2 linked regions of the Homo sapiens genome follow. The protein of the gene in region 1 purifies or fractionates together with the protein of each later gene. This does not show direct contact. Each region holds a gene or a part of one and is shown on either strand. Other genes may lie near its edges.

Region 1 (3,655 bases):
CCAAAAGCAGCAGCAGGAACTGGTTGGGGTGGGGCAAGAACAGTAGGGAAGGAAAAGGGGGTGAAATACAGTTAGGTCATGGAAATGCGGTCATCTATGGCCACTCCCAAGCTGATACCCATAGTGGCTCACAGAAGCAACAGGAGAACTTTGACATTTATTAAAACCATCAGCAACATATATGAGAAAAGACATATTTGAGTTTAGTTACCAAGAACATGTGTCACCCGACAATTAAAATATGGATACCCACAGTCTGCTAGATTTTGTAAATAACAAAAAAACATGCTCCTTGCCTGAGTTTGTCCTTAAAAAGGAGTGGCAACATGAAGGAACCCCCCTGGAAGATGGGTTACTTTAAAGGTTGTGTTATTAACAAGTGATGTGGTCCCACACAGCTGTGGGTCACAATAACTCATTATAGTACCCACCCAGAGAGACCACTGGCTCCTTTAACACCAAGTCCTAAAAAGCTATGGCAAAACATTTTTAAAATGTTACAACATTCACAATAAAGAACAGTAGCAATAAAGCACAGTAGAAATAAACTGGGGGTACTCTCAAAAGAAAAGATATTCCTCACTCCAGTCCCATTTTCTGGGCACCAATTCCCTTCCACCCCAACATGCTTGGATAGCATCAACACTTGAGATATTTCTTAATTCCTACCTGGACTGAGATTAGGAAAACTGACACTACTGGGCTTAAATTGGGCGAACTGTTATTTTAACCTCTTATATCTGTAGGGTGGGAGGATGGAAATACATTCCTACCGAGGTTCGTTAATTCCTTCTGACTAAGCCAAAGAGTTCTTCATTACCATAGAAGATAATTCATTCTGAGAATAGGACAATCGACCTATTTGTCTGGTCATTATCTTCCACAATTGACAAACACATACAAACAAGTGCTTAGCTCTGTACAAAGACAGACCTTACAGGAGAGTGCACACTAAAGCACTAGTGTTTAAATTATTTTCCATAATGAAAAAAGGACATTTCTCACATTGGAGTTATGTCTGTACTTCTGTCACATGACTCACATCACCCAAGAACATGCTAAGTCTCTGTAAATTCAGTTTCTATTAGAAAAACCACAGGAATACACATTACTGTACATACACATGCCCTGATGCAAGCTAAGATAAACACTGGGATGTGGCCCTTATCAAATCTTAGAGTTAGCAGGATAGGAAGAGTTGATCTTAAAGATTAGAAGGGAAAGAACACAGAAACGACCTACATTCCTTGGGAAGGGACTCTGTGGTTCCTTCCCTGAAGGACTCAATTCCACTTGCTCCTTACACTTAACTGTCACTGATGGTCCTATCTTTTCTTGAAGATATTTTCTATACAATATTCCCTATAGTGATCCCCAAAGAAAATTCATAAATCTGATTAATGGCAGTAATAACTGTGGGCATCTTCTGCTAAAGTCACCATCATTGATGGGTCCTTGGTCCCCAAACCTGTGTCTCATTTTTCCTTTCCAACCGTATCTTCAGTTAGCCTTCACAAAGATGCAAGCTTTAAAGGAGCTAATTAGAAACAATGAGAAGGAGAAAAGTTACAATCATTGCCTTCATCGTGCAAAATCTTGCCCTCAGGAAGATGGAAAAGATACAAATGCATGAGCAACTCAAGGAAAAAGCCCTTTGGAAGGGAAGATGTGTGTGCCCAACTACTATGGTGTGTGAATAGGTGTGGCAATTTAGGCAGAGTCTCTAGTTGCCTTTTTCCAAAGCAGCCATTACCACCCTATTACAGTCCCACGTTTCACTTAGCATAGTTCCTTGGGCCAAGGATGGGAGAAAATAACATTGAAAGATTTACTCCATTTCCAGGCCTAAGCATTCACCAGCATTTGTCCCCTGGTCTTCAGATTTCCAGTTACTTGTGGGGCTGCTTTTAATGAAGTAACCCATTGAGTGAATAAAAATCACCATTTTGGAGGAGATAACATTCCCAAAGCTGAGGGTCAGAATTTCAAATGGCTTGTCATCTCTGATGGTTTAAATCGTGGCCCACAACTAGGAGAGTATGATAAAAGCAGCTCAGTCTTGAGGGCGTTCATTGATATCAAATAAAATTGTATCTTCAAATGAATCATTTCTCAGCCATCATAATTACAGCTTAGTCCGTATGAACTCTCTTATGTTTAATAAGAGCTGAGCTCCTGCTGAAACTCTTCTCACATTCGGTACATTCATAAGGTTTCTCTCCCGTGTGAACTCTTTGATGTGTGATGAGGTTGGAGCTCTGGGTGAAACCTTTCCCACACTGCACACACTCGTAGGGCTTCTCCCCTGTGTGGGTTCTCTGATGTTTAATTAGATCTGACCTTTCACCAAAGCTTCGCCAACACTCATTACACTCATAAGGCTTCTCTCCAGTGTGAATTTTCTGGTGTGTGATGAGATGAGAGCTCCGGCTGAAGCTTTTCCCACAAGCATTGCATTCATATGGCTTCTCTCCAGTGTGAGTTCTCTGGTGCTGAACCAAGTGTGAGATGCGGCTGAAATTTTCCCCACATTCGTTACAGTGGTATGGCTTCTCTCCCGTGTGGGCTCTGCGATGACGCACAAGGTCGGAGTTCTGACTGAAATTCTTCCCACACTCATCACACTTGTAGGGCCTCTCCCCTGTGTGGACTCGATAGTGTTTGATGAGATCAGATCTCTCACTGAAGCCTCGGCCACATTCGTTACATTCATAAGGTTTCTCACCCGTGTGGGTCCTCTGGTGCTGAGCTAGGTGAGAGCTCCGGCTGAAGCTTTTCCCACACTCCTCACACTCATAGGGTTTCTCACCACTGTGGGTCCTTTGGTGTTGGATTAGGTGAGAGAGACGGCAGAAACTTTTTCCACACTCATTACATTTGTGAGGCTTCTCTCCAGTGTGGATTGTCTGATGCTGAATCAGGTGAGAACTTCTTCCAAAACTTTTCCCACACTCGTTACAGTCATAAGGCCTCTCCCCAGTATGTGTTCTTTGATGCTGAATAAGGTGTGAGCTGCGACTGAAGCCTTTTCCACATTCATAACATTTATAGGGTCTGTCTCCAGTGTGGGTCTTCTGATGTCGATTAAGGTCTGAGATCTGACTGAAGGCCTTTCCACAATGAGAACATATATGATAGCGGATGCCTGTGTGGACTTCTTTGTGGACAAGTAGATCAGTGACTGGTTGGAGAGGATAGCTTACCCACTCTTCTGCTGTTAAATCTCCCCATTGTCTTTCTGACCTATCTCCGCTTTCAAAGCCCTCTTCACTTTCAGGATTTTCCTCAGCATTCTCAGCAGGTCTTTCAGATGTAGTCCCAAATTGTACATCTTCACTAATCTCTTGCTTGGGATTTACCTCGTTCTCACTCCTGATCTCAAAATCTGTAATAAAAAGTAAACAATAAGACTAGTAAGTACAAAAATTACCTATTGTGTGCCAGGCACTATACTAAATTTTTTTTTTTTTTAGACAGAGTCTCACTGTGTTGCCTTGGCTGGAGTGCAGTGGTGTGATCTTGGCTCACTGCAACCTCTGCCTCCTGGGTTCAAGCAATTCTCCTGTCTCAGCCTCCTGAGTAGCTGGGACTACAGGTGCACGCCACCATGCCCGGCTAATTTTTTTATTTTTAGTAGACACAGGGTTTCACTATA
Region 2 (3,655 bases), on another chromosome or scaffold:
AATTGTTTCTTTAGCTAGATTCTAATCTGATCTTAAACCCATCCATTGAGTTCTAAATTTCAGTTACTGTATATTTTCAGTTCTAGAATATTGATTTAATTCTTTTGCCAAAATTTTCTACCTAGTCATTTATTTTAGATATATTAATTATAGAGTATTTATTTCCGCAAAGTTCATGTCTGATGATTACAATATTTGGATCACCTGAGGATCTCTCTATAGTTATTAAAAACCAAAAAGAAAAAAGAATTCTTGTCTATTGTGTGTTCTAGTTAATTTTCATTGAGTACCAGATACTGAGTATACAAAATTAATGTGATCCTTTGAGTCTCTGGGTGATGTTTTCTTCCTCCAGAGAGAATTTACTTTTGCTTCTGGCACGTCTAGTGCTAGGAACAAATCCTACAAATCCAGTCAAGGAATGAGATGTTTCAAAGCTGGCTTCAGTCTTTGTGAGAGTTTGTCTAATTAAGTATTATCCTTCCTGAAAAGAATCTTAACTGAAAGCTGGTGTGATTACCAAGCCTCTCCCGTCTTAGTGGGCCCTAAATTTCCATTTGTGTCCTTTCTTCCCTGTGAGAATGCCTAAGATTCTTTTTTAGCATCTAAGTCTTTTAGTCATAACTTTCTGTTCTGCTTCTCAGCCTAACAAGCTTTGCTTTGGAACTGACAAATGCCTTGAAGTAAAAAGTGATGCCAAATATCAGGCTTACCTCTCTGGGTTTCCCTTCTTTCTGGGGTCTTGGTTGAACAAGTCCTTATTGCATTGATAGCTCTATAATATAGCCTTCAAATAATTGTTTGTATAATATTTGGTCTAGGTATTTCATCAGTTCAAACCACATGAAATTTTCTCTTGTCGTATGTCAAAATGGCTGAATATTGGCAATATCGTACGCTTCAGTCAAAATTATTCTCAATGAGAGGGTTAATCTGAAAGAAACTATTCCACTATTGCTAGAAGCTGAATTCTCAGAATCTAGGGTTAACGTAACCAAATGCTATTGGAACATTGGATAAGTGTCACAAAGATGTCTAATACATACATTCACATATAACATATATATTCATCAAATAATATTTTTCCTGTGGAACAAGATACGCTTCTTATTTCCAAGTCAAGTTCAGATAGTAAGTCAGTAATAGCATTTAAAAACGTTATATCTGGCCAGGTGCAGTGGCTTACACCTGTAATCCCAGCACTTTGGGAGGCTGAAGCGGGAGGATCACCTGAAGTCAGGAGTTCCAGACCGGCCTGGCCAACAGGGCAAAACCCCGCCTCTAGTAAAAATACACAAAAACTAGGTGGGCATGGTGGCATGCGCCTGTAATCCCAGCTACTCAGGAGGCTGAGGCAAGAGAATTGCTTGAACCCAGAAGGCAGAGGTTGTAGTGAGCTGAGATCGCGCCACTGCACTCCAGCCTGGGCGACAGAGCAGGACTCCATCTCAAAAAAAAAACATAGAAATAAAAATAAAAGTCCGGGTGCGGTGGTTCACACCTGTAATCCCAGCACTTTGGGAGGCCAAGGTGGGCGGATCACGAGGTCAGGAGATGGAGACCATCCTGGCTAACACGGTGAAACCTCGTCTCTACTAAAAAAACAAAAAAATTAGCCAGGCGTGGTGGCGGGTGCCTGTAGTCCCAGCTACTCTGGAGGCTGAGGCAGGAGAATGGCATGAACCCGGGAGGCGGAGCTTGCAATGAGCCGAGCTCGTGCCACTGCACTCCAGCCTGGGCGACAGAGTGAGACTCTGTCTCAAAATAAGTAAAATAAAATATAAAAAAAATTAAAACTTTCAATTTTATATAAACATTGTAGAAACAAATGGATTTGCATACAAATTCTCAGAGATTTTTGTACCAGAAATCTCAGTGTAATGAAAAAGTATCTGTGTACCTGAAAATATTATTGCTAGAAAACTGTCTGAAAACAATTTGTGACTCATCTTCCTCTTGTTTCTGAAGGATTGCTTATGGATGCCCAAATGCGTTAAGTTCGGATGGTTTCTGCCCTATACTCCAACAGATAATGAGTATGGTGCTTGGAAGCGCCATTACATTGCTTGTGTGTCCCACTTAGACTGGCTGACACCTAGGGAGGCTGCTGCTACTTATGGGACGCTGAATGAACCCAAAACAGAAGATGAGGAACTACTGGAGAGACAAAGAGAAAAGTGCCTGAGGAAAAGAATTTGGGAGAAAATTGCACTACGTAAGAGTAAGTAGCATTTTAAACCTTTATATCTTAGGTAAATATTGTAGACACAAATGGATTCACATACAAATTCCCACAGAGGACAGCCCTGTCTTTCGGAATACTCTGAGTGGCAGTCTTAAGTATTTTCCAGATGAGCTTTTTTCCGTACTGTATATTTCAAGTTAATTGATGAGAAAAACAAAGATTTCAGACAAAATACATAAGGTTAAATATCAGTGCTTCCATTGCTATTCTGGCTCCTCTCAGGCTTATAAGACCAAAAACAAAGAGGATAAAGATGTTTGAACATGGGGAAAAAAGCAAACAAATAGGTTCAAAACAGAGGAATTGGGAGTGATGAAAAGAGGAGGAGAAATGCAAGTGAAAATGGAAGCAGGGAAAATGGCATTTAAAAAGGGAGAAAGAGGACAGCTCTTTCCGCTCTTTTTAAAGCCTCTTTCAGTTAAGCCCCCTATTTATTTATTTATTTATTTTATTTTTGAGACAGGGTCTCACTGTCACCCAGGCTGTGCAGTAGTATGATCTCTGGCTCACTGCAGCCTCGATTTCTGAGGCTCAAGTGATCCTCCCACCTCAGCCTCCTGAGTAGCTGGGGCCACAGGTGCACACCACCATGCCTTGCTAATTTTTTGTATTTTTGTAGAGATGGGGTTTCTCCATGTTGGCCAGGCTGGTCCCGAATTCCTGGGCTCAAGTGACCCGCCCACCCTGGCCTCCCAAGGTGCTGGGATTACAGGCAGAGCCACGGCGCCCAGCCTCAGCTAGGCCTTATGCTTTATGCAGTGTGTAAAAGAAAACAGCAAAACTGATTAGAGTTCTCCCATGTTTTCTTCCCACTAACCCTCTGGTGAGATCGTGACAAATAAGAAATTGCTTGAAGGCAAGAAGAAGGGCACAAATGAATGTGACACCTATCAATTGATTAACTGGTCCCCACTAGAAAAGGGTTGCTTGTTTGCTTGTTCTCTGAGCTTTGTTTCTTGACCTGAAATGACCGGTAGCTCACAGCCACAGTGCCAAGAGGATGAGAAATCCAAACCGAGTGCATGAAAATGGCTGTAATTATTGTCATTTGGAACCTTGCCCTGGTACAGCTTTATTTTTGATGCCTTTATCTGTGTGGACTTGGCTGGGAGAAGTATGAAGTAATCAGCCCCGCCTGCTGTTCTTTGTTTTTCAGAGGAGTTATTCAAAGTTCGACCCCCTTGGGTGAGTGGAACTTGCTGCTCTAGCGTGCTAAAGCCCAGATGCCAACCACGCCTCTCCCAGACTGTAAGGGAGCGAGTGGGATTACATGAAGCTTTGGAGAAACAGCTTGTTTTGACATCGTTAGAAACCTTGCCCAAGCGGTAAGCAAAATTCCATCTACTGAAGGCTCAACACCATCCCAATACCAATAATTCACTCTAGAATAAATTTAGCTATCACGCAGAA

What was found. The genes of interacting proteins can lie anywhere in the genome.
Region 2: the proteins of ZNF436 (region 1) and ECT2L purify together in Homo sapiens (affinity purification with mass spectrometry; one large-scale study listed by BioGRID and IntAct). This does not show direct contact.

Annotation. Positions count from the first base shown.
Region 1 is NC_000001.11:23,359,837-23,363,491, forward strand, and holds part of ZNF436 (zinc finger protein 436), read right to left. Parts: intron 3,386-3,655; coding exon 2,133-3,385; 3' UTR 1-2,132. UniProt on the Homo sapiens protein: May be a transcriptional repressor.
Region 2 is NC_000006.12:138,841,011-138,844,665, forward strand, and holds part of ECT2L (epithelial cell-transforming sequence 2 oncogene-like), read left to right. Parts: intron 1-1,968; coding exon 1,969-2,221; intron 2,222-3,401; coding exon 3,402-3,570; intron 3,571-3,655.